Linked DNA regions of Homo sapiens: all the other regions are reported to be linked to region 6. Evidence: microRNA targets listed by miRTarBase, many of them from high-throughput screens and not tested one by one. Region 6 holds a microRNA gene; each other region holds the end of a gene's coding sequence.
The links. Region 6 holds the annotated microRNA hsa-miR-1226-3p (UCACCAGCCCUGUGUUCCCUAG, at 3,721-3,742, shown strand). A microRNA usually pairs through its seed, bases 2 to 8, with sites in the 3' UTR of a target mRNA and lowers its output. Matches are read on the target gene's strand: a 7mer-m8 pairs with bases 2 to 8, a 7mer-A1 pairs with bases 2 to 7 and ends in A, and an 8mer does both.

Region 1: the mRNA of CKAP4 is a reported target of hsa-miR-1226-3p. The part of its 3' UTR that is shown has no 7-base or 8-base seed match.
Region 2: the mRNA of MRM2 is a reported target of hsa-miR-1226-3p. Seed matches in the 3' UTR shown: 7mer-A1 at 3,688-3,694.
Region 3: the mRNA of IPO7 is a reported target of hsa-miR-1226-3p. Seed matches in the 3' UTR shown: 7mer-A1 at 1,555-1,561.
Region 4: the mRNA of GIMAP8 is a reported target of hsa-miR-1226-3p. Seed matches in the 3' UTR shown: 7mer-m8 at 3,191-3,197.
Region 5: miRTarBase lists BLMH as a target of hsa-miR-1226-3p. The part of its 3' UTR that is shown has no 7-base or 8-base seed match.

The regions. Positions count from the first base shown.
Region 1 is chr12:106,234,771-106,239,857 of GRCh38, forward strand. It overlaps CKAP4 (cytoskeleton associated protein 4), which reads right to left. Exons shown (of 2, transcript NM_006825.4): 2 at 3,111-5,087. The coding sequence ends at 4,254. Among named protein-coding and RNA genes, the nearest start is that of CKAP4, 11 kb to the right of the region's middle.
Region 2 is chr7:2,230,768-2,235,846 of GRCh38, forward strand. It overlaps MRM2 (mitochondrial rRNA methyltransferase 2), which reads right to left. Exons shown (of 3, transcript NM_013393.3): 3 at 3,428-4,797. The coding sequence ends at 4,355. MAD1L1 (mitotic arrest deficient 1 like 1) reads right to left here and starts at 2,178. Exons shown (of 19, transcript NM_001013836.2): 1 at 2,105-2,178. RefSeq lists silencers at 1,677-2,096, 2,074-2,452 and enhancers at 2,087-2,381, 2,167-2,296, 3,031-3,563.
Region 3 is chr11:9,444,382-9,449,458 of GRCh38, forward strand. IPO7 (importin 7) reads left to right here. Exons shown (of 25, transcript NM_006391.3): 25 at 716-3,746. The coding sequence ends at 813. Among named protein-coding and RNA genes, the nearest start is that of ZNF143-AS1, 14 kb to the right of the region's middle.
Region 4 is chr7:150,476,842-150,481,928 of GRCh38, reverse strand. GIMAP8 (GTPase, IMAP family member 8) reads right to left here. Exons shown (of 5, transcript NM_175571.4): 5 at 2,536-4,837. The coding sequence ends at 4,149. Among named protein-coding and RNA genes, the nearest start is that of GIMAP8, 29 kb to the right of the region's middle. RefSeq lists a silencer at 2,150-2,384 and an enhancer at 3,835-5,034.
Region 5 is chr17:30,244,332-30,249,418 of GRCh38, reverse strand. It overlaps BLMH (bleomycin hydrolase), which reads left to right. Exons shown (of 12, transcript NM_000386.4): 12 at 251-1,216. The coding sequence ends at 402. The region is part of intron 2 of LOC105371720 (a long non-coding RNA gene); the gene reads right to left. Among named protein-coding and RNA genes, the nearest start is that of SLC6A4, 11 kb to the right of the region's middle. RefSeq lists an enhancer at 1-962.
Region 6 is chr3:47,845,888-47,850,887 of GRCh38, forward strand. MIR1226 (microRNA 1226) reads left to right here and starts at 3,668; the gene lies at 3,668-3,742. It overlaps DHX30 (DExH-box helicase 30), which reads left to right. Exons shown (of 22, transcript NM_138615.3): 11 at 278-1,114; 12 at 1,386-1,461; 13 at 1,545-1,649; 14 at 1,894-2,069; 15 at 2,293-2,499; 16 at 2,582-2,663; 17 at 2,737-2,930; 18 at 3,033-3,192; 19 at 3,305-3,462; 20 at 3,564-3,667; 21 at 3,743-3,882; 22 at 3,980-4,306. The coding sequence ends at 4,233. MAP4 (microtubule associated protein 4) reads right to left here. Exons shown (of 21, transcript NM_001385682.1): 21 at 4,808-5,000. RefSeq lists a silencer at 1,284-1,385.

The DNA.
Region 1 (5,087 bases), not on the chromosome of region 6:
TCACCTTCTTATATCCTCTCCCAATCTGGGAGGGCTGTTGTCTTAGAGGCCTCTCCCTTCCTCACCCCACATGCATTCAGCAGCATCTAACCTGGCACATCTCTGACATCCATCTACAACCCTCATCCTCAGGGCACATCGGACCCAGCCTGGACCACGACTTCCCAATGTCCACCTGCCCTCCCCTTGCTCTCCTCCAATCCTGCCAATGCGGGGGCACTCTAGAACCCAGTTCTGACCATGGTTACTTCCCCTGCCCCACTTAAACCCTTTTGTTTATTCCTCATAGTTCAGATCCAAACTCTCAGGGATGACATGCAAGGCCTCCAGGTCCTGGCCCCATTAGCCCTCCTACCCCATCTCCACCCGACTCCCCACCTGTGCTTTCTCTATTCCAACTGCAAGAACTGTGCTCAGCCTCTCAACTCTCCTGACTACTTCAAACCCAGTACCTTTTGCCTGGTACCTGACAACCCTACCTATCTTTTAGAACTGGGTTCAAGTTTTACCACCTCATTATATAGTCACTTCTTTGAAACAAATCTTACCCACACACAAATTATTGAGCTCACAAGGAAGGATAACTTCAAAATATTTAATCTGATGGGCACCCACCCATCAGAACAAATGCAGGCCCTGGGGCTGGAGCAGAGTCTTGTGGTCTCTGCTATACTAGAATATTAACCTATTAGTTGCTGGATTGTAAAGAGGTATAGTGGTCCAGAGAGAGGACATGCAGGGGGTTCAGGGCAGAAGCTATTCACCAACTAGGACAACAGTATTTCAACATTTTAACCTCTGGTATGATCCATGCACGCATGATCACTGAAGCACTTATGATGTGCCAGATTCTGTGCTAACCCCTCAACACGCTCATTCAGTCCTGACAACCACCCTGTACCATCACATCATCTTCATCACCACCATCATCATCTCCATCTCCACCATCATCTCTATTATCAACACCATCACCATTCTAAGTGACTTGCCCAAGGCCACATGGTCAGTGGTGTAGTAGTCTCCTCACCAGGGTGCTGTCAGTCCTGCCTGAGAAGTTTCACTGCAGCCTCTTATCCTGGTGCTGGATCTGCAATTTAACCAACATGTTCAGTAATTTGTGTATATTGTTTGTTCAAAGGGCAAAACAACCTGTTTCCCGAAGCTTCCCATTACTCATGAAAGCATTCCAAGGGACTTCCCCCAGCCCTTCAAAAACCTGTTCTAACCACCTCTAGACCAACCATGGCACAATGGTCACTCCTTCCTCTTGGCCCAATACACCCAAGTATGGCACCTGTATTTCTAATACCTACCACTTTACATGACTGTCATTCCCACTGGGCTAGTCCTGTACATTTTAATTCACTGATACTTAGCAAAATGGCTGGCTATCAGCCCAATAAATGTTTATTGAATGAATGAACACTATATTGAATGAAGAAACAAGACTGAGCTGCATTATTTGGTGTAAGAACTCTAACTGCCCCACCATCAGAAATATGTGAATTCCTAATATATTCCTTTTATTTTCACCACTTGAATTTATATTTATCAGACACTTGTCAATATTTTCTTTTATAATATTAATGAGAATCTATTAAACCACTCCATAGTCAGAGATGAGCAACTGCAGAAATGACAGGAGAAACAGCAAGAACATACTCAATGCAACCAATTGGCCTGAAAAGGAAATGAATTTAATTTTTTCCATGCCTGCGACTTTATGCTGTTCCGCACCCTCCCCAAGTGGGTGAAAGTAGCCATTTAAAGCATACATGTCAATACTTAAGACTTTAAAATAAAAAGTAAAATGGTTTTGAAATAAAAATAGAAATTATTTACAGAGCCTGTCCTGATTTGCTAACTGCTTTGGAAAAAACTTCCAGCTCTGAGTTGTGAAGCTTTGAGGGACCCAGAGTGACTGACAGCAATTCAGAGATGAGGGGCCTTTCAGCCAGAAAGGGGGACATCAAGCCACAGGACCTCAGGTCCTAGCCACCCTCTACTCCCTAGGTGGGAAAGAAGAAATCTCTTGCAGCCTTGGGCTCTGGAACAGGACAGATATTCCACAGGCCAAATGGACCTGCACTGGTGTCAGTGGACGGTAGAGGATGCTGTCCCAGTTAGAGCAAGGATGAGGTCCAAAGCTTAGCCCTGCCACTTCGTAATGAATGACCTTGTATGAAGCTTCTCAGCCTGCTGTTCCTCTGTGAAATGGGAAATGATACTGCCTACCTCGGGGGACTGTAAGAAGGAATAACAGGTTATTATGCATGCTGAGCACAAGACCTGGCACACAGGTACTCAATAAACAGCATGTGGTTTTTATTGGGTGGAGGGTGGAAGGCAATCCAGAGAAGGAAACAAGCCCAGGTGTGCACTAGGGCTGAAGGTCACTCAGATGGTCTGAGACACTGGTTCTCAACCCTGACTGGACATTAAAATCAGAGAGGGAGCCTTTAAAATACCAGTGCTGGCCAGGCATGGCGGCTCACACCTGTAATCCCAGCACTTTGGGAGGTCGAGGCGGGCAGATCACGAGGTCAGGAGATTGAGACCATCCTGGCTAATACGGTGAAACCCTGTCTCTACTAAAAATACAAAAAATTAGCCGGGCGTGGTGGCAAGCGCCTGTAGTCCCAGCTACCCAGGAGGCTGAGGCAAGAGAATGGCCAGAACCCGGGAGGCGGAGCTTGCAGTGAGCCAAGATCCTGCTACTGCACTCCAGCCTGGGTGACAGAGCGAGACTCTGTCTCAAAAAAAAAAAAAAAAAAAACAGTGCCAGCCTCTTTATGCCTATTCAATCAGCATCTGTGCGGGCAGGGCCCAGGCATTTTTTAAAAGCTCCTAGGAAGATTCTAATAGGTAGTGAGGGTTGAGATCCTGTGCTTGAAGCTAACAGAGCTGGAGACAAGTAATCATTGAACACACTTGCTAACAGTCCATCAAAGGAGGTCCCCGGCCCAAGAGTGAGGCCATCTCGGTTTCAGAATTAAAAGAAAAAACAGCCTTAAAATAGTAAACTTACCTATTTGCTAATCGTTTATACCATGTGCTAATAAAACACATCATAATTACGAAATTCTCAGAATGTAACCACTCTGGAAAAGTCATAACAAAGCTCAAGTGTTTATTAAGAATTAAAAATACTGTAAATAAGCCATACAGTTCATTTCACAGTAAACTAAACAAAACTTTTTTTTTTTTTTTTTACTTTTCGGGTTTTTTTTTTTTTTTTTTTTTCAATTTTTTTTGGAAGGGCAAGACAGCCATTAAAGAACAATACAGCTCAGAGGGAAGGGAGATACAGCAAACAATTACACAAACGCAGTATGCACGCTCCTTGCCGACAGGGCTGCCCAGACGGCAAACCTCTTCATGGACATCATGTTAAAATAAAAGGACTTGGCCTGCATTCCCCAGGGAGACCCCCTATTCCACTGTAGACAGCTCTCCTCACGAATTTTTTGAAAGAACCCAAGGACTCCCCTTTCTGGTAGTCGAAACCTGTGCATTCCTTGGTGACCTCCGGAGAGAGAACATGGGCCGGCAGTGGGGACAGAGGGCACCGGGACTCTGCTGGGTGTAGTGCTTCACATTCAGAACCGCCTGGATGCTTTGCATAGTTACCTCTGATATCACAAGATGCGTCAGGAAGAGAAACGACACGCACACCATGAGGGAGGCAGCCCTCAAGCAGCGGATTCCTTTCAAAGAAAGACCCAGGGGCTTCTCCCCTCCTCATTCAGAGCTGACAGCTATGAGCTTTAACCGGTTCAAAGTGGAAGACAAGTGAGAGATATCTCATAAAAATTTCGGCCAGAACAAAAAAAAAAGTAAAATTAATTTTCCTTAAAGACAACTAGAAAGAAAAGGGTCCCCCCAACCCACCTTTTTTTTTTTTTTACTTGAAATCTGCCAGCCAGACAGGATTTCTGAGGTTAATCTGCTTCTGTTAATCCTCAATTTAAGCCTTTATCATTTTTCTCTGACTAGAGACATCCATGAAAAGCCACCTGTTATTCACAGGGGCTGCGCTTCAGGAAACCAACCAAATGCAGAAGCAGAGAACTTAAATATTGTAAATAAGTTAACTGGGCATGAAAATACAATGCCTTGGTGTTCAGGTGGTGACAACTGCTCTTTAAGAGGGGACAAGAAATTGGGGGGTAGGGGACACATGGGAAAAAACCACACATTTTTTGGTCATGAGAAATTGGACTTTAAATCCGCGCCCTGCACACGCAATTCATTTAGACCTTTTCGTGAATCTTCTCCACTTTCACAAACAACCTATCCAGATCATTCCTCAGGTCATCTAGTAAACCCTTGGCTGATTCCAGATTGTTCTCGTTGGTTTCTATTTTGACCGAGTATGCAACCAAACTGTCCACAGCAGTCCTGAGCATTTTCAAGTCCGCCTCCACTTGGCTGACTGAGGCTTTCAGGTTGTCTAGAGAAGAAAGTCTGTCCAGGAAGTCCTGAGGAGGCAGACGGGCGGCCTGGGCTTGGTCCTGACTGAGCAGCGTGTGCACCTGCTCCTGCACCTTCTGGAGTGATTCCACGGTGCTGGGGAGCTCGCCCACACTCCTCTTCAGCTCCTCCACGTCACCGTAGAGCACCAGCTGGGTCTCGCCCAGGCTCCTCACCGTGCTGGCCAGGCCATCCTGGTCTGCCTCTGAGGACCCGAGGCCTTCCAGGCGCCCCTGCAGGGCGGCCAGGCGCTGCTCGTGCTCCTGGCTCTTGGACAGGAGGGACTCCAGGCTCTCGGTCTGGCGCGCAGAAGCCACCTGCATGGAGAGCACCCCATCCTCCACGTGCTGGAGCCTGGAGTCCAGTCCCTGACTCTTTTGCTGGAGTGCCTCAAAGGCTTCCGAGTGTCTGAAGCCTCCGTCCTCCTTCGGCCCGTGGGAATCGGACTTCAGCTGGCGGAGCTCTTCCTCCAGTCTCCGGATCTCCTCCGGGAGGCGGGAGACGGACTCCTCAGACCTGAGAAGCTTCTCCGTGAGGGCCTGCAGGGCGAGCCGCTCCGTGTCGGCCGCCTCCTTGAAAGCCTGCTGCTCCTGCTTGAGGCTCACCAGCTCGCG
Region 2 (5,079 bases), not on the chromosome of region 6:
CAGGCAGATGGACACATTCGCCTTTTCTCTGTTTTTGTCCTCTCCAGGCCCCCAGGCTCTTAGATACTGCCCCTGACTCTGAGGATGGATCTTCAGCACCTGGTCCACTCAGACTCCCAAGCTCATCTCCTCTGGAAACACCCTCAACAGGCACACCCAAAACCAAAAATGATGCTTTCCCAGGTTTCTAGGAATTCCTGAATCCAGTCAGTTGATGCCTGAAACTACCTACCAGGAGCACTCACAGCAAAGTCTGGCCTCTTGCCCAGGCAGGGTGGTTCACGCCTCTAATCCCAGCACTTCGGGAGGCGGAGGCAGGTCCGGAGTTCAAGACCAGAATGGCCAACATGGCAAAACCCCACCTCTAATAAAATACAAAAACTAGCCGGGTGTGGTGGTGTGCGCCTGTAATCCCAGCTACTCAGGAGGCTGTGGCACAAGAATCGCTTGAAACTGGGAGGCAGAGGTTGCAGTGACCTGAGACCGCACCACTGCACTCCAGCCTGGGTAACGGGGTGAGACAGTGTCTCAAAATAAATAAATGAATGAATAAATAAATAAATAAACATAAGCCAGGCACTGTTGCTCATGCCTGTAATCCCAGCACTTTGTGAGGCCAAGATGGGCAGATCACCACAGGTCAGGAGTTCGAGACCAGCCTGGCCAACATGGTGAAACCCCATCTCTACTAAAGCCAGATGTGGTGGCGTGCACCTGTAATCCCAGCTACTCCGGAGGCTGGGACAGGAGATTTTCTTGAACCCAGGAGATGGAGGTTGCAGTGAACTGAGATCGCGCCACTGCATTCCAGCCTGGGTGCCAGAGCAAGACTCCGTTTCAAAAAATAATAATAATTAATTAAAAAAAAAATCTGGCCTCTGGGAATCAGAAACGAGGCATGCAACAGTGACAGTAAAGATGATGATCATCACAGCTGTGCTCATTTTCATTGTTTATTTCTAGTGACATTAATAAGTACTACTACTATTTTCAACTAGGTATCAGAAAGAAAGGTATCTGACATTTCCGAGCACCGAGACTTCTTGAACTTCAGTTTCCTCATCTGTAAACTCATGACAGTGAAATCTACTTGCAAAGTTGTGGGGAACGGGGCCAATATCCCTCAAGTCTTCCACCGCTAGATGATGGGAATACGGCTGCAGGTTGACCAGCACTATATTTGTAAGCTCAGTCTCAACAGGGTGGTGAATTAGGTCTTTTTACACAGATTCTAGAGATGATGAAACCGAAGCTTCAAAAAGTTACAGAACGGAGATTGGAACTTGGGTCTGTCTGGCTTTGGAAGGCTGAAGACAAACCGCAGTAAAGAACTTTGCACCCCCAACACCGGCGCTTACTATGGGCTCATGGCAGGCCGGCCCACCAGCCACAACTAGGGAACAGCCAAGCGCGTTTAAAAGCCAAAGGTAGAACTTCTGCAGCTGCACAGTTTCTGAGTTTCCATTTAACAAGAACCTTGGCCTGGTGCAAGCAGAGGCCTGAGCTCCCCAGGCTGCCAGCCCCGCAGAGGCAGGCCCGCCTGGAAGGAGGCTCCACAGCCCAATTCCTCCATTGCCCAAACGAGATCAGGGTGGCCCTTGCCATCCCCGAGGGGAAACCGGGCCCACACGCCCCCTTCCTGAGAGCGGACCGGCGCGAGCCACCAGGATGCCAAGAGCCCCTGCAGCCCCGACTTCTCCACCAGGCGCCAGCTCAGGCCCCTTCCTCGGCGCGCCGGCACCCTAGCCCGGGGACCCACACGGTAGGCAGCGGGACCCCGGGGCTGGGACCACGAGCACGCGCCCCTCGGCCGCCCGCCCTGGCACAAGGGACGGCTGCGGAGACCCAGGCGAGGGGCCCGCTGTCCCCAGCACAGCCCAAAGGGGGAGTGGGGACAGGGGAGTGGGGAGAGGAGGGGAGAGCACAGAGAGGAGAGCGCGCCCATGGGAGACGGGGCGGGCGCGGGGTCCTGAGGCACGGGGTCTGGGTCGTTGTGCCCCACCCTGGCGAGCACACCCGGTCCGGGCCCTCGGCCCCTCCCTTGCCATTCCCGGGACCCCCGGGACCCCGGGACCCCGCCGCCCGCGCGAGCCGGGCCGCTTACCTCAGCCGCTCGCAGCCAGCTTGCCGCCGCCGCTCGGATCTCCCTCCGCTCCGCCGGCGCCCATTTATCGCGACACTTGCGCCTGCGCTCTCGCGAGACCTGCGTGGCAATCGGGCCGTAAAGAACCGAGTCTGCGCACCGGCTGATCCTGGGGACTCCGCGTCCGCACCCGGAGCCGCCACCCCTGGGAGACTCCGCACGGAAAGGACTCGGAACCGAAGGCTGAGCCAAGGCGCAGTCGGGGGCCCCCCGGCTTTGCGCAGGACGCGCTTCCACTAAGGCTTTCGCCTCGCGCCGTAATGTGTGGAATAGCCGCGCCCACGGCAGCCTCCTCGGACAAACTTGCACCGTTGACTCTTCCCAAAATTTTGCTACTCAGTATCAGCTTGAATCAATCCGTTATTTTGCTTTTTTCTGGGCCCACTAGAAATGCAATTTATGCTACTAGGCTACCTTCCCAGTGCTCTGCAAGCCAGGGCACAGCATCCAATGGGGTGAGGTCAGGCCCCACCATTATTATGGTAACCTTTGTCTATCCTTCAAATTGGAGCCTTCCTGAGAAGAGTGTGCCTTACTCGTTTCCATATTCTCTTCCTCTCCTCCTCCCGTCTCTGCCCAGCCCCTGGCTTCCCTCTAAGAAGATGCTGTTCCTAAGGGTCTGCAATGAATTTTCCTTCTTTCAGAGAAAGACTTCCAAGTTGTGTGCCCCGGGAATGAAATGGAATAAGAGAACGAGGTGGAGTAGGGCAAGAGTCCCTGGACTTAACAACCTGACTGCAACCAGAAATAAAATGAAAAGTCAAAACATCTGGCGGCCGGGCGCGGTGGCTCACGCCTGTAATCCCAGCACTTTGGGAGGCCGAGGCAGGCGGATCACGAGGTCAGGAGATCGAGACCATCCTGGCTAACACGGTGAAACCCCGTCTCTACTGAAAATACAAAAAAAAAAAAAAAAAATAGCCGGGCGTGGTGATGGGCGCCTGTAGTCCCAGCTACTCGGGAGGCTGAGGCCGAATGGCGTGAACCCGGGAAGTGGAGCTTACAGTGAGCCAAGATCACTTCACTGCACTCCAGCCTGGGTGACAGAGTGAGATTCTGTTTCTCAAAGAAAAAAAAAAATCAAAACATCTGACCCGCAGTTTCCTTCGGGGAGCTGGACAGAGCCCCAGATTCCTGATGGAGATTCCTGGGTTTCCAGACTTCCCCCACTGGTCCTTGGAATTTAATCATAGTCAACAAACTCTTCTTGAGGGATGAGTACACCTCCAGGAAATGGCTTTGAGGAAGCCAGTTTAAAAAAAACAAAACTTCAAAGCATGAAAGTACCTTAAAATAATGCAATCTCTATTATTTTATTAAATATAAAGCTGCGTCAAGTTCCTAGATGAGTAAAAGAAAATAAACACACCACATCACTGCTTGCTTTGGCAATTACATTTATGTTCTTGGGAGCCCAGACACTGATATAAATTTCCAGCAAAAACCAAAGCAGACCCACTGCCTGGATAAATTCAGACCATACGTCTTCCCTAATTGTTCCGGGAACTTTTGCTGCTTGAAGAATGCGTGAATTGCTATATTGTTCACCAGAAAGACAGAAGTTAATCCCCAGATGGAAATTTCAGATTTTTCTTTTGGTTTGCTTTTTGGTTTTTCATTTTTGTAGACATGGGGGGTGTTGCTATGTTGCCCAGGTTGGTCTTGAACTCCTGACTTCAAGCAATCCCCCAGCCTCAGCCTTCTAAAGCCCTGGGTTTACAGGCATGAGTGGCCTCACCCAGCCCCCAGATTTTCTACTTTAAACAGCCACACTAAGAACTGGAAATCTGTGCGTGGTGCTCTCAGAGCAGGGGTGGAAAGCCTGTTTGTGTGTGACAGTTTAACAGTCTATAAGATGAAGTCCCGTCAAGGCACACATGGGCACACCCATCCCTGCCTCGGCGGATTCCTTCTGATCCTTCCCACAGTCTGTTTTTCTCCATCCTTCCATCCTCACCTCTTTCTCTTGATAACTTTCTCTTCCCAAATCACAATATAGCGGACTTTTTCATTTTCCATGGCCCCTGAACTTAGTTTTGTCATCTCTTTTTGGTTAAAAAGAGAGAGAGAGAAAGAGAGAGAGAGACTCCCCACTTGTCCTGCTCCATCTCCAAAATCAGCTCAAATCTCCCAGGAACTCTTCAGGAGCTCAGGCTACGTTTCTAGCTTAAAAGGAGCTAATGACCATTATGAAAATGGCACAAGAAATCCTCACTGCTTCACAGTGCCCTTCCTTCCGTGGTACTGTGTGGCCAAGAAGTACACTTCTGATGACTCTTTCCTGCTGGCTTCAGGTTTGATGATCCTTACATTCTGGAATTCCTCTGTCAGTCTCCTCTGTAACCGACGGCTTTGACTTCCAGCCCAGGTTTTACAAAGGAATGTCCCCCCAGGTTGCAGGATGTCTGGGGTCACGCTGAGAAGGGTCAGGCACAGGCTGATGAGCCTGTCATGATCGAGGTCCCGGAACCCTGTGGCATTGGGCGCCATGTCGCTCAGAATCACATCTGCTCTCCTGCCAGGAAGCACCTCGAGGATTCTCTGTGAGGTTCTCGGGTCAGTCACGTCAGCAGGGCACAGAAAAGTTGCTCCTTCCAGGGGGAATATGTGAAGAAGATCTACCCCAAGCACGAAGCCAACAGGAGAGCTGGGATCTATGGAAGAAATGGTGAATGTGTTATTTATTTACACCCTGAATCTTTTTACAAAAATACAGTACATGCAACAAAGTGATGAAATAAAAATAAAATGTCAAGACCAAGGCAAAGAGCTAATGTGCAAATAGGTAAACACAGGCCTTCTCTATCTATACATCCTATAAAGACACATGGTGGAGATGGCGGGCCTTAACATCTGAGAAGCTGAGGCCCAGACAGGAAGTGACTGTCCTAGAGTCATCCTCAGCCATGGGCAGACCTGTGCCAGGCATCAGGACT
Region 3 (5,077 bases), not on the chromosome of region 6:
ATTTGTTTGAGTGACACTGTCACCCAGGCTGGAGTGCAGTGGTGCAATCTCGGCTCACTGCCACCTCCATCTCCCGATTTCAAGTGATTCTCGTGCCTCAGCTTCCGAGTAGCTGAGATTGCAGGCACGCACCACCACACCCAACTAATTTTTGTATTTTTAGTAGAGACGAGGTTTCACTATGTTGGCCAGGCTGGTCTCAAAAACTCCTGACTCCTGAGGCGGATGGATCACTTGAGGTCGGGAGTTCTAGACCAACCTGGCCAACATGGTGAAACCCTGCCTCTACTAAAAATACAAAAAATTACCCGGGCGTGGTGGCACGCACTTGTAGTCCCAGCTACTTGGGAGGCTAAGGCAGGAGAGAATCGCTTGCACCTGGGAGGCAGAGATTGCAGTGAGCCAAGATCGTGCCGCTGCACTCCAGCCTGGGTGACAGAGCCAGACTCTGTCTCAAAAAAAAAAAAAAAAAAAGATTTTTTTCTTAACAGTGGGAAGTGAAAATTGGCTAAGAAGTCTACAGCATACAGTAAAAGAGATTATATTCTCTACATAATGCATGCTCCCTTGCCCTTATACATTGGAGAAATCATGGATTTTGGAACTTCCTGGCCACTAATGATGGTTAAGCTACTGGCTTGTTTAATGTTTTGTCAGTTTCTCACCAAGTTAGTAGATGATTGAATGCCCTACTAAAATTTTATTTGTTTTCTAGAATCCAAAATGATTGAGAAGCATGGAGGATACAAATTCAGTGCTCCAGTTGTGCCAAGTTCTTTCAATTTTGGAGGCCCAGCACCAGGGATGAATTGAGTTATCTCTTTCTTTCCTGCTGTGTGCTTGTAGTGAAGAGCTTGTGTTCCTCCTAGTAGTGGTTCCAGAACTGGTTCATGTTATCTATTCTAAACTAATAATCAATAGATGGACAAAAGAAACAACAACCCCAGGAGATGGGACCTGATCATGCAACCTGGCACTGGAAAAGAAATCAGCGGGATTTTGGGGGTGGGGGGGGATGGGAGGTACCTTAGAGGGAGTATTTTCTTTATTTTTTGAAGAAAGTAAGATCCTGACTCTGAAGCTTCAAAGTGACACTGTGGAAATCTGAAACGAGGGGATGTCATGAAGGCAGCTTTTCTTTTTCTGAGGAAAAAATAGGCATGGGCTACAGGACTATTTAAAATGTCTCATTTACAGTATAAAACTCAAAGGTAGATGTAATTTTTACACCTATGAGTATTTGTCCAATTTCTGTCTCTTCCTCACCATTGGGTATCTATTCTTTATATGTAAATAAGATAAGGTCATCTGATAGCCTTATTCAGTCTTCATCATTTTCATCATTGTTCCTATGTAGATTATTGGACATTTATTGTAGCACTACATAACTGATTATAAAAATCTGTAAATGAATTAGCACTTTCATATTGAAACAAGCCTGCTAGCCTATGTATAAAATAGCAAAATGTTTGCTGTTTATAAAAAGATGTAATGGGGTGGGGGGCAGGGGTAATTTCAAGTTATTAATTTAAAAATGAACTAGCAATTTTGTACCTGGTGACTTTGTGGTGCACTCACCTCTGATAGTGACTTGAATTCGGTATGTAAAAAGGGGTTAGTGGTATTTCATTGCTGCTAAAAATGACAACTCCCTCTGTGTCCTGTTTTTCTTAAAGCTGTCAGTGTACAAGTGGGTATTTGAATACCAGACCTTACTGTAAAAAATAAAAAAGGTGGTATCTAGAGCATGTAAATTGGATATAAAGTTCTGCTCTTAAAGAGTTGATCTAAGAGTATGGCTAAACATCTATATATGCAATCTATTAAAAGAACTTAATTCGGCTATTATGTCTTGATTTGATTGCAGTTTTTTCCTAATTATAACAAATTTTTCCTCATTGGCCTGTTTTTAATCCTGTGCCTAGAAGGAGTACAAAATGCACACTTTACAAAATTGATATTTAACACTTACCCACTCCCCTTTCCCCATCTCTTCTACCGCTCTTGTTGATCGTGGTATCTGATCTTGACTAGATAGGCTGAAGGCACATGGTTCCCTCCAAAAACCACTATTGATACCACTACAAAAACAAGCCAGCAAAAAGATACTGTAGAGAGGTTGGCTTGCTTCCCTCTCTTCCTAACTGCATGTTGAAAAATAAGCCGTTATTGATCTTAAACATCGGTCAGATGAGTCATACATTGGGTTATTTTTTATATACATGTATACACAAAATATTTCAAATTGAAAGCAACATCTTAATGGATTCAAAACTATTACAAGCTGTTGTCTAAAACAGGTGAGAAAAAAATTTATAACTGTAAAAACAAATGCACATATTGATATTTAAAATGCGTAATTAAGAAAACCCATTGTTGTTGTGTTTTTCTTGTATACCAATAATTAAGCCACTACTGTTGGCACTGTTTGGTTTTCTATTTTAACACTGAAGGAGTGAAAGTATTTCCTATATTTATGAATTTACTACTAAAATCTTGGCAAAAAAAGAAAAAAATTGTCTAACGTGTGTGGGTGAAAACTGTTAATCAAGTGTTTCTACTCCCCCCCGAAAATCCCCTGAAAGTTGGACACCAACTGTATACCCTAGGTTGCTTAAAGGGATTTCACTATTATATAAAGTCAATAAAAATGAAGTAGTTGTATATATGCAACATTGTGTACAGAGGGGAAATAATGAATAGTATTAAAGAAACATTCTCGTCTTCCTTTACCTTTAATCCCCTAATACCTAGTCTACTTTTTAAATTTTCAGACTTCACTGCTTTTTGAATTCATAATTCTAATTTTCACATTATTGTTAATGGAAAATCATATCTAATAAAGGTTTTAGTTATTCCCATGCACAGTATGAAAATTCTCATTTGCTGAGGTTTTGTTTCAAGAAAATGTATTGGCATGTCTTTGAGAACATGTTTTATTGTCTCCTGTGTCATATAATCCAAACTAATCTCCGTTTACAGACTTTAACTTGAAATTAGACCTTATAATTAAACTATTTAAATAGTGTTCAAATGATAGTTTCTAATGCATCAAATATATACCTCAGTTTTCATGATTTCCTTTAACATTATAATTTGGTATAGATCAAGAATCTTAACATGTATCAGTTTCTAGATGAGGCTGCAGGATTTTTGGAAAACTTTTTGAATGTATTTACAATATTCTCTTGTAATTAGCTACATAGGGACTTGTCTTTTTTTCTTTTTACATACAGCTTTTCCTACAGTTTTATTACCCTGTAATTTTTTTTTAGTTGTAGAAGTTAATTCTGATTTTGTGTGGATTTCAGTATTTGTCTTTGTTAATGGCACATATTAGCATAAATCACTTTTGTAAATGTAAGCTTTCTTTTTTTTTCTTGAAAAAGCCTTTCTATTTATCAGTATTAAATAAAGGAAGTTAATCTGTTTCTCTGCAGGTAATAAAATAGTGACACACTGTATTAAGATAGTGACTGCTATACTCAACTCTGGAAGAGACTAGAGTATAGAGCATGAGTGGCAAAACCACAGCCCTTGGGCCATATGCTGCTATTCAGTCCCAGATGTAGCCCCTGAAGCAAGCATAAAGAAAAATGAATTAAAAATTAAATTAATATGGAAAGTTAAAAAATGGATTACATTAGTATGACTAAACCATGTCTTTGGCAAAGATCTAACACAATGTCTTAAGTATAATAGGTAGTCTCTGTTTGTAAAATAAATGACTTAAATTTAAAACATCAGTTATAAAACTGTCAGTTCTGTTCTTTGTAATTTAAATTTTGGTAAAGATTTTCTGTGACCATTTATCAGTGCCTACTGAATTCTAGCTTTTATCCTTGGTGAGTTGGCCATTCTTGCAATAGCCACTTCACACTTTGGCTCATGGTAAACAAAGGTTACCTGGAAAGTGCTCTTGGAGATAGTACTGGCATCTCTCAATTGGGGGAGTTACCTAAATCAGACCTGCAAATTAGAGAAGGCTAGGATAATAGATTCTTTAACATAAACAGTTAACATTTTAAGTTGACCTGGCAATCCAAAAACTAGCATTAGCAGAAGCAGTATGCTTCTCCAAAGGTCTTCTAGACCCAGGCTGTAACTCAGCTAACTGAAGTGATCCAATACTGTTCTAGGCCCTTCATCCTTTGTATGTAGTATTACCACTGAATAGATTTGTATGTAGTATTATGACTGCATAAAACAAACAATGGGGACAGATATATCCCTTTCCTTTAAGGACCAATACAGTAGGCTGTACTCATTGTTGCCCCTTATATAAAGGGTCAAAACATATTCTTATGACCATGCATATCAAAAGAAGCTGGACAATGTGGTTCTTAAGCTAGGCAAAATCTTTGGTTTTAGCACTATAGGAGAAATATATAAGTTCTTGTGTGTGTGTGTGTCTGTGTGAGGTAGTCATCCCCACTCCAGGTGTTTTTTTGGTGGTGGTGGTGGTTTTTTTTTTTTTTTTCCCTGAGATGGAGTCTTACTCTGTCACCCAGGGTGGAGTGCAGTGGCACGATCTTCGCTCACTGCAACCTCTGCCATCCAAGTTCAAGTGATTCTCCTGCCTCAGCCTCCTGAGTAGCTGGGATTACAGGTGCCTGCCACTGCACCTGGCTAATTTTTCTATTTTTAGTAGAGAAGGGGTTTCATCATCTCAGCCAGGCTGGTCTGGAACTCCTGACCTCGTGATCCACCCACCTCGGCCTCCCAAGTGCTGGGATTATAGGCGTGAGCCACTGCGCCCGGCCCCCTCCAGGTGTTAAGGCACAGGTGAGAATTCTCCTTTATATATTTATAGATGCTGGGCCAGGCACGGTGGCTTATGCCTGTAATCCAAGCACTTTGGAAGGCTAAGGCCGGAGGATCACTTGAGCCCAGGAGTGCAGGACTAGCCTAGGCAATACAGCAAGACCCTGTCTTAAAAAATAATAATAGGCTGGGCATGGTGGCTGATTCCTGTAATCCCAGCACTTTGGGAGGCTGAGGCTGGCAGATTACCTGAGGCCAGGAGTTCAAGACCAGCCTGGCCAACGTGGTGAAACCCCATCTCTACTAAAAATAC
Region 4 (5,087 bases), not on the chromosome of region 6:
TCTTTTAGGCATGACACCTTGGCCCTGGCTTGACCCCTTTTAGTCTAGCCTACACGCTGCCCTATAATCTGTGGGTCAGGAAACGCAAGCCCGCCACACTACCACCCACCAACATACATGAGGACGATGTGAAGTGAAGAGCAATAAACAGGAAGTTTGTAGCTGAAGAGGAAAATGTATCATGCTGATCATGCTGTTCACAACTAGATTTTACACCAGTCTGTTGAGCACATCCTGTGTGTATTCACAGAAATACAGAGGTGCAAGAGTGAAGGCCACGGAGGTTTCTCATGAACATCAAGCTGCCTCTCATGGGAGAACGGGAGGTGGGCCTGCCGATGCCTTCATCTGCTAGGGAGGATGATAGTGTGCTAGTGGTAGAGGCTGGACCAGTGGGCCCATGGAACAAGCTAATGTAAGGATGAGCTAGGAAGGAGAGGGTTTTTACTGAAAAGGTGGATGCTTCATTTGAGGGAGGAGGAGAAGAGGCTCATAGCCAAGTGGCCTGGGGATTCTTCTAGGGAAGTGAGCTTGCTGGCAGGCTTCACAGATCATGTCAGCAACTTAGCTGACTCCCTTGCAGAAATTTAGCCAAATTTTATGGGACTTTCTGTCGTCATGGAATCACGAAACTATTTTTTTTTTTTTTACTCTTTATGCTAAGTTCATCACAAAAGCCTTGTTCTTCAGTAAATCTTGCTCAGTGCAGGAAAAGAGAGAAATGAAGTGAAAAGGATTGCTCTGAGGAAGGAGAGGAGGCTGGGGGTGCTGGATGACCCTTTGTGAAAAATAAGCATGTTCTTAGTGCATCAGCAAAACAGAGGCACTGTAAATAGGCAAAAAACATTTCCTTAGAAGTTACCTCTCCCACTCTCTAACCAAAAGAGGTCTGGATCATCTGTACATCCTGCAGTCTATCACATTGGTCCACTGTATCAGGGTCTCTCAGCCTTGGGACTATTGACATTTTGGTCCAGATAACTCTGTTGTGGGGGACTGTCGTGTGCATCTTAGGATGTTCAGTAGCATCCCTGGATTCTATTTACCACATACCAGTAGCACCCACTCCCTGTTGTGGCAACTAAAAAATTCTCCAGGAGGCTGGGTGTGGTGGCTCACGCCTGTAATCCCAGCACTTTGAGGGGCCAAGGCGGGCAGATCACGAGGTCAGGAGATCAAGACCATCCTGGCTAACACAGTGAAACCCCATCTCTACTAAAAGTAATTTTTAAAAAAAATTAGCCGGGCGTGGTGGTGGGCGCCTGTTGTCCCAGCTACTCGGCAGCCCGAGGCAGGAGAATAGCATGAACCTGGGAGGCGGAGCTTGCTGTGACCCCAGATCACACCACTGCGCTCCAGCCTGGGTGACTGAGGAAGACTCCGTCTCCAAAAAAAGAAAAAGAAAATTTCTCCAGGAATTGCCAAATGTCTTCTACAGGGCAAAATTGTTTCCAGTTGAGAACTAGCACATTACCTCAATGATGTCACATTGGAGAGGCAGGACAAGCAATAGGTGGCCAGCATGATAGTGGCCTTGGTAAGACACATATGTTTGAGAGAGTAGAATATCAGTTCTGGACTTCCAGCTCAAGGAGGGTCTTCAGTGAGACATGGAGGATGTCCGCCAATTATGGCAGTGAGGAAGGGATGCCACTCTTGAAGGCTTTCACTTCAAGAAGAAACTTGCCATTCAGCTCCAGCTGCAACACTGTCAGGTCCCATCTGAGCTTCTGAGCTGAAGCCATGCTTTCTCCAGCCAGTCCCCAGCCTAAAGCGGAGCACAGCAGAGCTCCTAGTGTCTGTCCAATGCAGGACTTGGCTATTAATCTGTCTTTGCCCCAGAATTCCCTATTGAGTTGGCCTGGGCTTTGCCAGGCTCTTCCTGCCCAACTCAGCTCCTCCCCACTTTTCTCTTGCAAGTGTCCAGTCTAAATGACAGTCTGAAGGCTTTCCCTGCCCAATTTGGCTTCTTCCCTCTTTTGTCTTTCATGAGCTTTCCCCATAAACCTCTTGTGCTCCTAACTCTTTCTCGGCATGTATTTCTCAGAGAAACTGACACAGCAGTATTGTTGCCCCGTTCAGACTTGGACCTGAAGGAAAACAGCAAGGTATGTTAGAGCCAACCTGTGAGAGGATGCCACATTGCTTAGCCCACACATCACCCACCTTGTGCAGCTCCCAGTGTCACCTGCTCAGCCATAGGTAGCACACTGGGATTTGTTTCTGCCTTCAGGCAGAAGGGAAGCTCAGGGAAGAAGCACAAAATGCCTTTCAGACCTTATTCCTCCCATGTTTCTGGTTCTAATACTGGTTACATTTATTTGTCCTTGCTATACTTAGATGTCCAGAGTGAAAGATAACTGAGCTGTCAGGGACCTGCCACACAAATGGCTGTCACCCAGTCTAAATGAAGGTCCTCAGGCACCAAAGATACAAAAACCTCGCCTGAGTCAAGGTATCTAAACATCTCAATTGTCTCTTCATGAAGGTATGCTGCTTCCCTAAATCACAAAAATAGAAATCAGAAAGAGAATGTGAATTCATAATGATTCATCTTTATTATTTGATTCAACTAAATATATTTACACACTTTTTTTTACTTTCCAATTTTTATTTCAGGTTCAAGGGGTACATGCACAGGTTTGTTACATGAGTAAGTTGTGTGTCACAGGGGTGTGGTGTACAGGTAATTTTGTCACCCAGGAAACCAGCATAACACGCAATAGGCAGCTTTTCAATCTTCACCCTCCTGCCACCCTCCACCCTCAAGTATACCCTGGTGTCTATTGTTCCCTTCTTTGTGTCTACGGCACACACATTTTCTAGAAGTTATTGTGTTAAGGGTTATATGGAATCCAAAAGTATTAATGGCAACAGTCCATGTCCTTTTAAATGGATTAATGTTGACGGTAACCTGATATTGTCTAGGGGAAAAAAACAGATGACAAAGATTATGCTCTCAAAGCATGTACAAAGTGCTCAACATTTTACCCTGTATCTATCTTATCCTGTATCTACCCAGAAGAAGGTTCCAGATTTCTCTCTCACATATCACCCACCTCTCAAAATAATCTGCTCAGCTATGGAAAGAACACCACTGTCTTGAAACCAAGAAGCAAATTCGAGTGTAGAAGCCACATCCCAGTGCAGGTGGGACAGAAAGATAGAACAAAACTGGGATGTTGACGCCCACCAGCCCCAGCCTGCTTATTCCTCGGCTTCCTGACAGGAGATACAGGAAGCCCCTGATGTTTTTAAACCATTATTATTGGAGTTCTCTGAGTTTTAACCTGTTTCCTAACCTCAAGGGAAAGAGAAGGAGAAAGAGAAACGCAATGGAGATTCTAATAACCTTCTCTAGAGGAAATCTAGAACAACACTTAGAATTACAGAACTTTGCAAGATTCTCTGATTTTGGCAATCTTACTATGCTTCTAATTTCTGTTCTAGTCTATGTCACTGTGATAATTAGCAATAAAATCATTCAGAACCTCCAAGACTCATGTCTGTTTCCTCAGGGACAGCCAGCAATGGAAGACTATGTCCCACTTCACATCTAGGCGTGGAACGTGAAGAGCCGTAAGGAATGGCTAACGTGTGAAGAAAAGAACACTCTAGCCCTAAGTCGCATCCCAAAGGAGACAGGAGAGCTCAGGGAGCCAACGGCCCTGGACAACAGGGAGGCCCTCTGGAGTCTGCTTCCTGCTTCCGCCATGCCCAGGAGTGTGCTGAACGCTGCCCTGGTCTCATGTATCTGGATCCCCTGGGTTGTTGTACGACTATCTATATTCTCATCCCAGGTGGCCTCAGCCTTGATCACAGTGTCTATCCTGATTCCAACCTACCTACACAAGTGAGGTGATTCTTGTGACTTGATTCTACCACTTATTATCAGCCTAATGTCTGAAATCTTTTTCCAGATTTCCCCACCTTGTATCTTCTTTCTCCTTTATAATACCCTACTATTCGCCCCCACCTGCAATTTATTTATCTACAAATAGCTGATACATCACAAGGCGGGATGCATTTGCCTCTCAGGCCCTCAAAGCCATGAACCCGCTTCCCTTCCCACAGGTTGTACCATGCCCCGCCCCTCCCCCCAACCTGAGGGTGTCTCTAATTGAAGAGACCCCAGGCACTTCGGCTACCTATTGTAAAATACCTATTAAATTTTTAAGGAGTTTTTCGGCTTGGGACATTTCCTGGACATTTTTAATTAGTTTGCTGACGTTCTCCTGTGTATGGGGATACCCGGACCACCCACTTTCTTTTCTCAGATCATTGACCTTTGTTAAAAGAGCTTTCACCTGGGTTTCCTGGGCCTGGCCTGTTTCTTTGTTGTTAAAAGCACAAACTCGCCGCCCACACTTTTTAAAAATGCGCCGAAGGGCTTTGTTATCTGAGTTCTTCATGAAGTCTTCCAAATTCCCCGCCCCTAGGTCTTCCTTCCGGGTGAACAGCATAATCGCGTATTTCGTAAAGTCTGCTCCAAAGATGGCCTCCAGTTTCGCCACAGCTGTTTTGTCCTCTTCAGTGAATCGTCCCAGCTGGAACACCAGGACAAAAAATGTGTCCCCTTTTTCACAGCAGGACAAACAGCGCTTGACCTCCTCTTCTAACCGGGATGGGTCCTTTTCGACATCCAGCATCTGGTTGAAGGAAGGAGTGTCCACAACCACCACCTCCTGTCCGTCCCATGTCCTCCTGCCACTCTGGCTGGTCTTGGTGACTGGCTGGGCCCGGAGCCGAGAGGTGAAGACGAGGCTCCCCAGGATAGAGTTCCCGGTCGCACTCTTCCCAGTCCCGCTTCTCCCCACAAGGACAATGTTCAGGGTTTCTGTCAAAGGAAAGTGGGAAAGATTCGTGACCATGGGCTGATCTGAAATTGGATTTTAAAGTTATCCCATGAAGCAAGATTACATCACTAAAGTAAACAGCATGTTCAAACAGCATCAAGACCTCCTTCTCACCCAAGCAGGGGGATCTCCAAACACGGGAATGACTTGGCCCAGTTCACTCAGTCTGTGGACTCATGGCAGGACTTGGACTACATACAGTCTCCGTCCAGGGTTCATCCACCAATGTGG
Region 5 (5,087 bases), not on the chromosome of region 6:
CACCATGTGACCTGGGCACATCACCTAGTTACTCAAGACCCGGTTTTCTAATTTTTCTAAAAATAGAGCCATGCCTGTCCTATCTGCTTCACAGAATTGCTAATAAGATTTAGATTAAATGAAATTACAGATGGGAAAGCTGAAAAATATGTATGAATATTAGTTTTGTAAAAGGTTTATCCTACAAAAAGGGTTTCTGCTCTTTGTCCCTTGCCCTCTGGACTCATAAGTCTTCTGTTCTTTTCTCCAGGTTACCTGTGCATGACAGATGAGTGGTTCTCTGAGTATGTCTACGAAGTGGTGGTGGACAGGAAGCATGTCCCTGAAGAGGTGCTAGCTGTGTTAGAGCAGGAACCCATTATCCTGCCAGCATGGGACCCCATGGGAGCTTTGGCTGAGTGATACTGCCCTCCAGCTCTTTCCTCCTTCCATGGAACCTGACGTAGCTGCAAAGGACAGATCCAGGGACTGAAGCCAAAGTTATGCAAGGGACTGTGTGTTGCCACAGGACACAGTCAGATTTCCAGTCTCCACCAGGAACCTCTTCAGAAAGTGTGCTTTATGCTGAAACAGAATACTGTTAAAGGAAAAAAAAGAGGGGGGAAGATCAGGTCATACTATCTACTCTCCTCATCTCTAACAGCTCAGGATCTCTTAGCATTTTAATTAGATGTAATTGTTTGTCTTTAACTGTCAAAAAGTTTGGTTCTGTGTCTGTGTTTTAATAAGACGAGAGGACGAGCGATTGAGGTGTATGGAGAGAAAACAGACCTAATGCTCCTTGTTCCTAGAGTAGAGTGGAGGGAGGGTGGCCTAAGAGTTGAGCTCTCGGAACTGCATGCTGCTGGACAGTATCACTGTCTTTCCTAGATGGCAGTCACTGAATTCCATTTTTTCAAGGTAATTTCTTGTGCCTCTAATAGCCCAAGAATGGGAGGTTGATCAGATCTGACATGATTCCTTCCTGTTCTGAACTGTGGGGTGTGCACATCTCTGCTTGAGTCAGGTTTGAGTAGAGGCTTAGAGACAGTTGGGTGAGAACAACCAAAATCTTATCATGGTCTCAGTCATAATCATTAGGGGGAACTCTAGCCAAATGGTTTAACTTCTGCCTGTGGAACTGGGGATTGGGTGGGCAGGAAAAGGTGATATCCATTCTTTCTGATAACTAGATGGTGCTGAGAAGCTTTTGAATAAAAACTTTGCTAAATGAGAATAAGCTGATTTATGTGATCTGTCTGAGAAGTGTTTGTTTATCTACAAAAGAAAGCAGCCAGGTGGCTCATGTTCTTGAAAGTGAAAAAACAGGAAAAGGGCTTCCCTCTTCAGCTTCTCTGCAAGATGTGTACTCTTTCCCAGACCGCCGATTCTCACCGGCATCTGCAAAGGGCTTCCAAGCGCCTGTTTAAGAAGGACTGTTCCCCTACCGCATAAATGTTCTACCCAGATCCAGGGTCCCTACAAGGGTGGGGAGTGAGGCTCTGTTGGGCCCAGCCTTAGAATAGGTCAGTAAGTTATCTTACTGAGATTGGGCCACCCTTTCAAGAACAAGGGTAAAATAGAAAACATTTTCACAAAAAAAACTGAATTTGCCCCAACAGAAGGGAAGTGATCAGTATGGAAGGGTTGAAATGTATCAAGGAATGTAGAATAAAGAACATGATTGTTATGTTGGTCAGCTACACAAAAAGCAACTGTAGAAGAGTCTTAACAGGGTTGGAAAAAAGGTAAAACGAAAATCCATGAAGGTAGCAGATAACTAGGGAGGGGAGGTAATTGGAATGAACATACTCTAAGATCCTTGTGTCTTTCAGGAAGAAGATAAATACATTGTTTAACTTCAGACTTTGGTATGTAAACCTGTGCCAAAAACTTCTATAGTATCTACTAAAAATAAGCAGAGGATACAGTTTTCAATCAAGAATAAATAGAATGGAAAAATGCAATCAGTCAAGAAGACAAGATAGGGTAAAGAAAAGGCAGGACAAATAGAGCATCCAAAACAAGATAGTAGAGAGAAATCTAAATGTGCCAATAATTATATGTAAATGGACTAAATGTTCCCGAAAAAAAAAATGCCAAACTGTATTTTTAAAAGAAATCCAGCCATATGTGATGACAAGAGAGAGACATAGGCAACCTACAATATAAGAAAGGATGGAAAAGATACATCAGGCAGATACTAACCAAAATAAAACTGAGAAGTTATACTCATAACCCACAGAATTAAGGCCACTCCAAAGTAACGAAACAGACTGTCTAATTTCAGTTTATTTGCATAAACTGTAATGTGAATGTCCTCCCTGGAGCTGTGGAACACCACAGCCCTGGAAATAGGCTTTAAGACAAAAAGCATTACTACAGATCGAACCACTACATAATGATATGCTTACCCAATTCTTCAGAAAAACAAAGATTCTAAGTTATGCACCTAATAACATTGCCTCAAAATATGTAAAACAAAAACAGCTATATGGAAAAATAAGAAATCCAGCATCATAGTGGGAGATTTTAATATGCTTCATGTAGACCAAGCAACAAAAAATTCAGGAAAGTATATAAGAGATTTAAACATTTAGCAAGTTTGGTAAAATGGACGTGTTTAGAAGACCACATCTTCATCCTGAAAGCACAGATGTGTGGAAACCAATGACCGAGCATAAACCTGTTAAAAAAAAAATTGCATCTAACAACTGCACATTCATTTTGATCACCTATGGAACTTTTTCAAAAAGCGACCATATACTGGACGGTAGAGTCAATCTCAACAAATTTGAAAGGGTTGTTACCACGTAGACCACACTCCAACCACAGTGCAATTAAGTTAGAAACCAAAATTAAAAGATTACAAGACGACCTCTGTATGTTTAGAAATTAACTCATGGGTCCAAGAAGAAATCATGAAGGAAATTTAACCTGAACAATAATAAAAATATGTCAAAACGAGGGATGCAGCTGCAACAGTAATTTAAAGGTTTTACAGCATTAAATTATTACATTAATGTATTAAGATTATAGAATTTTAATTAGTTCTGAATAATAGAATGTAAATTCTAAATCTAAATATCAAAGTTATACTAGGATGTAATAAAGGCTGAAAATTGAGCTAAACATCTGTTTCAAGAAATTAGAACAGCAAAATAAACCTAAAGGAAGTAGATATGCACAGAAATTAAGCATAGCATCAACGAAGCCAGAAGTTGGTTCTTTTAAAGAAAAATTGACAAATATTAATTTTTTTAAGTACACAGGGAATTAAAAGGATATTATAGATGCTGCAAATATTAGAAAAATAGAAGATACTCTCAACTTTCTCAAAAGCAACAGTAAAGGGATTTGTTTAGAAGACAAATCCACAAGCTCGGGAAGACCAGGAGAGGAGCCAATGAAATATTTGAACCCAGAAAGCAGATGGAGACCTTGGAAGATTTAGCAGAGCTGAAAAAGTTGAATCTCACTGAGCCAGTGGTGGAGAAAGCCAGTGATAAGCAAATCAATTTACAGTGCATAATCCCCTGAAAAGCATAGATATGGTAGCAACAGAAAGCATTCTGGAATTGGGCGTGAAGGGAGGGTTACCAAAGAGTTGAATGTCTGTTGGGTCCCCTTCCTATACCGACCGGCTTGGTGATGCCCTTCCTCCATTCATCAGTGCATTAGAGATTTCTTTTCTGGAGAGAGAAGAAGTGTGTAGTCTAGGTGTCAGGTGAATCCCCTAAGTGAGCATTTACATTCTGAATCTTCTTGCCATCCTTGGCTGCTAGAACTCTAGTAGCCAGGAAATTGGAAGTCTTCTCAGGAGCAACTCGATTAGCTCAATAGGCAAGACGTAAAAAACGACTTTATGGCCTAAAGAATGATTTTATGAGGCTAGCATAACCCTGATAAGGATAGTGAAAAAAATACATGTAAACCTCACCCATAAACATAGATGCAAAAATCCTAAACCAAATGCAGCAATATGTAAAAAAGATAATCTTCATTACCAAATACTTAATGAAAGCCATTTTTCAAATGAACTTAGGATCCAGAGGGGAGAAATGAAGCATGGTGGTTTTATCTTCTCTGCTAAAGATTAGGGAAATGGGCTGAAGTTGTAGCTGGAGGTCTCAGTTGGAAGAAACTGCTAGTATTTGGGTGACGAATGAGGTAGGAAATGGGAAGGCATGGAGTTGTCTTTTGCTTTAACTGTGAATCATACAGTGTCACCAGAGGAGAGCTTCATGACTGGCCTCTGGGAAGTCCTGGCCTGAGTAATGGTGACCCTACACGTCCAAGAAGCCAAGGCATGATAATGAGACATGCCTTCAGGATGTGGTGTGGCCCATCTGCTTGCTTTGGCTTGTCCTTAAAGAGCAGCTTAATTCTAAGTTGCTGTTGGTGGCACCAGGGCACTTGGACTTGAAGTCCTATTCCTCTAGTGTGGTGTGGGTGAGCACCATTGCCCACGGTGGCTCTAGTTAGTCATTTGTTAAGTTAGATACTTTTTAAAGTGATTCCAGATGAGCGTGGTCATATTTAGGACAACTTGTTGAGAACTGTTGTTGATACTCATGAAGCCAATGGCTTCCTTCTTGGGGTCTGTGACACAAATGGGTTGAAAACTAGGATTAAACTGGCCGGGTTTTTCTGTTTTTCTTTTTCAAACTCCAAGTCCTTTACACATTATTGCAGAGGGAAAGGAAATAGGGGAATGTTCAATTCACAACAGCTGCAGCTATTTGGTCTTTGTTTTGTCTTTTCTTTTGAGTCTCATTCTGTCACCCAAGCTGGAGTGCAGAGTACAGTGGCACGATCTCGGCTCACTGCAGCCTCCACTTCGTGGGTTCAAGCAATTCTCCCACCTTAGCCTCCAGAGTAGCTGGGATTACAGACATGCGCCACCACAGCTAATTTTTTTTTTTTTTTTGTATTTTTAGTATAGACAAGGTTTTGCCATGTTGGCCAGGCTGGTCTTGAACTCCTGGCCTCAATTGATCTGCCCGCCTAGGCCTCCCAAAGTGCTGGTATTACAAGTGTGAGCCACTGCGTCTGGCTAGCTGTAGCTATTTGGAAAGAGGATTGTGTGCAGATGGGAAACCCTCCAC
Region 6 (5,000 bases):
CTGTAGTCTGCCTCCATCTCTCCAGACTGAAGGCCTCCACCTGCGACAGGCAGTAGTACCTCCCCATTCTCTTCACTGAGTTTGGGGCCTGGGATCCCCCTGGCCTGAACAGCCCAGTCTTGCCCACAAGGATCCCGGGGCAGTCATGGACTAAATTAATCCTCTGCCCAGCGGGTTGGGCCACAACATCTGACCCAGGCGAATCCTGCAGAGTGGCTGGTTGTGTGTGAATGAGGAATTTCTTTTTCATTGTTTTGCTTGCCTCCCTGCCCTCCAGTACCCTGTGGAGAGTTCATGGATCGCCCCAGAACTCCGGCTGCAGAGTGATGACATCTTGCCCTTGGGCAAGGACTCAGGGCCTCTGAGTGACCCTATCACAGGCAAGCCCTATGTGCCCCTGTTGGAAGCAGAGGAGGTACGTCTCAGCCAGAGTCTGCTAGAACTGTGGCGGCGGCGAGGGCCGGTCTGGCAGGAGGCCCCCCAGCTACCTGTGGACCCACATCGGGACACCATCCTCAACGCCATTGAGCAGCACCCGGTGGTGGTCATCTCTGGGGACACGGGCTGTGGGAAGACCACGCGCATCCCCCAGCTGTTGCTGGAGCGCTATGTGACCGAGGGCCGAGGTGCCCGCTGCAATGTTATCATCACCCAACCTCGCCGCATCTCTGCTGTGTCTGTGGCACAGCGGGTCAGCCACGAACTGGGCCCCTCCCTGCGCCGGAATGTGGGCTTCCAGGTGCGGTTGGAAAGTAAGCCCCCATCCCGAGGCGGGGCCCTGCTCTTCTGCACTGTGGGTATCCTGCTGCGTAAGCTGCAGAGCAACCCCAGCCTGGAGGGCGTGAGCCACGTCATCGTGGATGAGGTGCATGAGCGGGACGTGAACACAGACTTTCTGCTGATCCTGCTCAAGGGCCTGCAGCGGCTCAACCCGGCCCTGCGGCTGGTGCTCATGAGTGCCACAGGGGACAATGAGCGCTTCTCCCGATACTTTGGTGGCTGCCCCGTCATCAAGGTGCCTGGCTTCATGTACCCAGTCAAGGAGCACTACCTAGAGGACATCCTGGCCAAGTTGGGCAAGCACCAGTACCTGCACCGGCACCGGCACCATGAGGTGAGGGACACCCCCATCCCACCCAAGGCTCCTGGCCTTTCCTCCGTGGATGCCCCTCCTCCCTGGCCCTGGGGCTTGGTGCCTGGGGCAAGTTACCCTCCCCAGTCCTCGGTTTCCTTGATAGAAACTGGGGACTAACCCTGCCTGCGTGGCACACGTGAGGATTGGAGTTGATGTCAAGCGGCTCCGTCTCACTGAGTCAGGTGGCTGTGTCCTTGGCATGACCCCTTACCCCGGGGCTGTGACTGTGGCCTCTCTTCCCCCACCCCAGTCTGAGGATGAATGCGCACTCGATTTGGACCTTGTGACTGATCTGGTTCTGCACATCGATGCTCGCGGGGAACCAGGTGGGTGCCTCCCCATCTGTCCCATGCTAGCCCTGGCCACGTTTGCAGCAACAGCTGGCTCATGCCCCAGGGCTCCTTTACAGGTGGGATCCTGTGCTTCCTGCCTGGGTGGCAGGAGATCAAAGGAGTGCAGCAGCGCCTCCAGGAGGCCCTGGGCATGCACGAGAGCAAGTACCTCATCCTGCCAGGTGAGAGCCCCGGCGGAGGGACCAGGGACCTTTGGAAACCAGCCTGACCTCTGTCCTAGGGACTGACCCAACTGGGACTCCAGGGGCCCCGGTTTCTGACCAAGCTGTGGCACTTTTCACTGGGCATAGTGTTTATCTGCGCCTGTTTCATCAAAATGGGGTCAAAATCCTTGCCCTGCCCACATTCCAGGGGGGAATTCTGGTGGAAGCAGTGCCCATAACTGGTGTGTGTCTTGCCCACCAGTGCACTCCAACATCCCCATGATGGATCAGAAGGCCATATTCCAGCAGCCTCCAGTTGGGGTGCGCAAGATTGTCTTGGCCACCAACATTGCTGAGACTTCCATCACAATCAATGACATCGTGCATGTGGTGGACAGTGGGCTGCACAAGGAAGAACGCTATGACCTGAAGACCAAGGTGGCACCTACCTCCTGGGCCCGGCCAACCACTGGGGGAGGGACTCCGTTTTGAGGTGGTCCCCAGCCCAGATCTACCTTAGACCTGCTTTGTGTGTCTTCAGAAGGCCGCGCTTGTGGGGTCTCAGTGTTCCTGATGTAGGGGGCTGGTGAGGGTTACTCAGGGAGTGGGGAAGCACTGAGGAAGTGGCATTTGTGTGCTGCTTACTTGCCACCTCCTCCAGGTGTCCTGCCTGGAGACAGTGTGGGTATCAAGAGCCAATGTGATCCAGCGCCGGGGCCGGGCGGGCCGCTGCCAGTCCGGCTTTGCCTACCACTTGTTCCCTCGAAGCCGGCTGGAGAAAATGGTCCCTTTCCAAGTGCCAGAGATCCTGCGCACACCTCTTGAGAACCTGGTGCTGCAAGCGAAAATCCACATGCCTGAGAAGACGGTGCGGCGGGGCGGGGCAGGGGCTGGCCTGGGGACCAGGCAGGTGGGAGGCAGGCTCATGGCGGGCTCTGGCTCTGTCATAGGCGGTGGAGTTCCTGTCCAAGGCTGTGGACAGTCCAAACATCAAGGCAGTGGACGAGGCTGTGATCTTGCTCCAGGAGATCGGTATGTAGGGGCTGGGCTGGGCTGGGCTGGGGAGTGGCTCTCGAGGGTGGTACTGACAGCTGAGCCGTTGCAGGGGTGCTGGACCAGCGGGAGTACCTGACTACCCTGGGGCAGCGCCTGGCTCACATCTCCACCGACCCCCGGTTGGCCAAGGCCATTGTGTTGGCTGCCATCTTCCGTTGCCTGCACCCACTACTGGTGGTCGTTTCCTGCCTCACCCGGGACCCCTTCAGCAGCAGCCTACAGAACCGGGCAGAGGTGGACAAGGTCAGTCCTGGCTCCTTCCTGGAGCCGTCCACCCACTGCTGTTCTGAGGGGGCGTTGTCTAGCCCCTGCCTGTGATCCGGCTGCCCTCTTCTCCCCTCCCAGGTGAAAGCACTGTTGAGCCATGACAGCGGCAGTGACCACCTGGCCTTTGTGCGGGCTGTCGCCGGCTGGGAGGAGGTGCTGCGTTGGCAGGACCGCAGCTCCCGGGAGAATTACCTGGAGGAAAACCTGCTGTACGCACCCAGCCTGCGCTTCATCCACGGTCAGTCGGGCCCACACCTGCTCTCCTGAGCCCCTCCCACCCCCACTGAGTTTCTGTCACCTCCAGCCTGTGGCTAGGGGCTGTAGGTCCACCACACATTCTGTCTCCCTAGGACTCATCAAGCAGTTCTCAGAGAACATTTATGAGGCCTTCCTGGTGGGGAAGCCCTCGGACTGCACCCTGGCCTCCGCCCAGTGCAACGAGTACAGTGAGGAGGAGGAGCTGGTGAAGGGCGTGCTGATGGCCGGCCTCTACCCCAACCTCATCCAGGTGCTGCCTCTGGGAGGGAATGGAGTTCACCAGGTCCCAGCCTCCTTCCCTGTCTGCAGCTCCTTGCTCAGCCCCACCCGTCTTTTCCTCCATCCCTGCAGGTGAGGCAGGGCAAGGTCACCCGGCAGGGGAAGTTCAAGCCCAACAGCGTCACATATAGGACCAAATCAGGCAACATCCTGCTGCACAAGTCGACCATTAACAGGTGAGGGCATGCAGGCCTGGATGGGGCAGCTGGGATGGTCCAAAAGGGTGGCCTCACCAGCCCTGTGTTCCCTAGGGAGGCCACACGGTTACGGAGCCGATGGCTGACGTATTTCATGGCAGTCAAGTCCAATGGCAGCGTCTTCGTCCGGGACTCCTCTCAGGTGCACCCGCTAGCTGTGCTGCTGCTGACCGACGGGGACGTGCACATCCGTGGTGGGTGCCTGCAGGCCTCCCGCCCACCCCGCTCTGCAGCTGCTCCTCCGGGGCCTGGCCTCACCACAGTTCCCCACCATCTTTTCCATTCCCTCAGATGACGGGCGCCGGGCCACCATCTCACTGAGCGACAGTGACCTGCTGCGGCTGGAGGGTGACTCGCGTACCGTGCGGCTGCTGAAGGAGCTGCGGCGGGCCCTGGGCCGCATGGTGGAGCGGAGCCTGCGCAGCGAGCTGGCTGCACTTCCCCCCAGCGTACAGGAGGAGCACGGGCAGCTGCTTGCGCTACTGGCAGAGCTGCTGCGAGGACCCTGTGGCAGCTTTGATGTGCGCAAGACAGCTGACGACTGAGCCCTGCTTCTGCTGGGGCTGTGTACAGAGTGCAAATGTTTATTTAAAATAAAGTTCTATTTATCCCTTGTGACCACTGCTGTCCACTAGGGGCTCCTCTCTCAGGGCCTCCATACACTGGGCCACGGTTCCCCAAAGAGGAAGGAGGAAGGTAGGTAGAGAAGAGAGTGAGATGCTTATTGCTGGGGAACGGGCTGGCTGTGGCCCCAAGTCTTTTAAGAGAGAAGGGGGTTGGAACCTCCTCCCTTCACCAAGAAAGAGCATGAAGCAGCGGTGCTGTTAACCACCCCAGTCCCCTGGCACAGCTGCTGCTCTCGGTACCCACCACAGGAAGCCTGTCAGAACTGTCACTGTCCTTGTAGTTTTGGACAGTAAGTAAGCAAGTAAGTGTCAAGTAGCCCTTTATCAGGCAGACTAGGGGAGAGTTCCACAGGTAGCCAAGGCGCAGGGCTATGTGGCACAGTGGTCCTTCCCGTGTCCACATCCACAAGTTCACAGCTGAGGGGCTGAGCTGAGGGCAGGAAGATCCAGGGAGGTGGTAGATGCAAAACGAGACAGAAGCACGAAGCCTGCGTGATGGGACATCAGGCAGCTTTATTTATTTACTCTTAAAACTGTTACAACAGAATCATGGACTGACACAGGTAATGGCTGAGCCATAAGCAAATCGAGAAGTACAGAAATGTCCCACCCCAAACAGCTGCGGAGTACACATCACACAGGGCCTCTGGTCCCGGCCTTCTCAGGTGCTCTGGAGTGGAGGATCC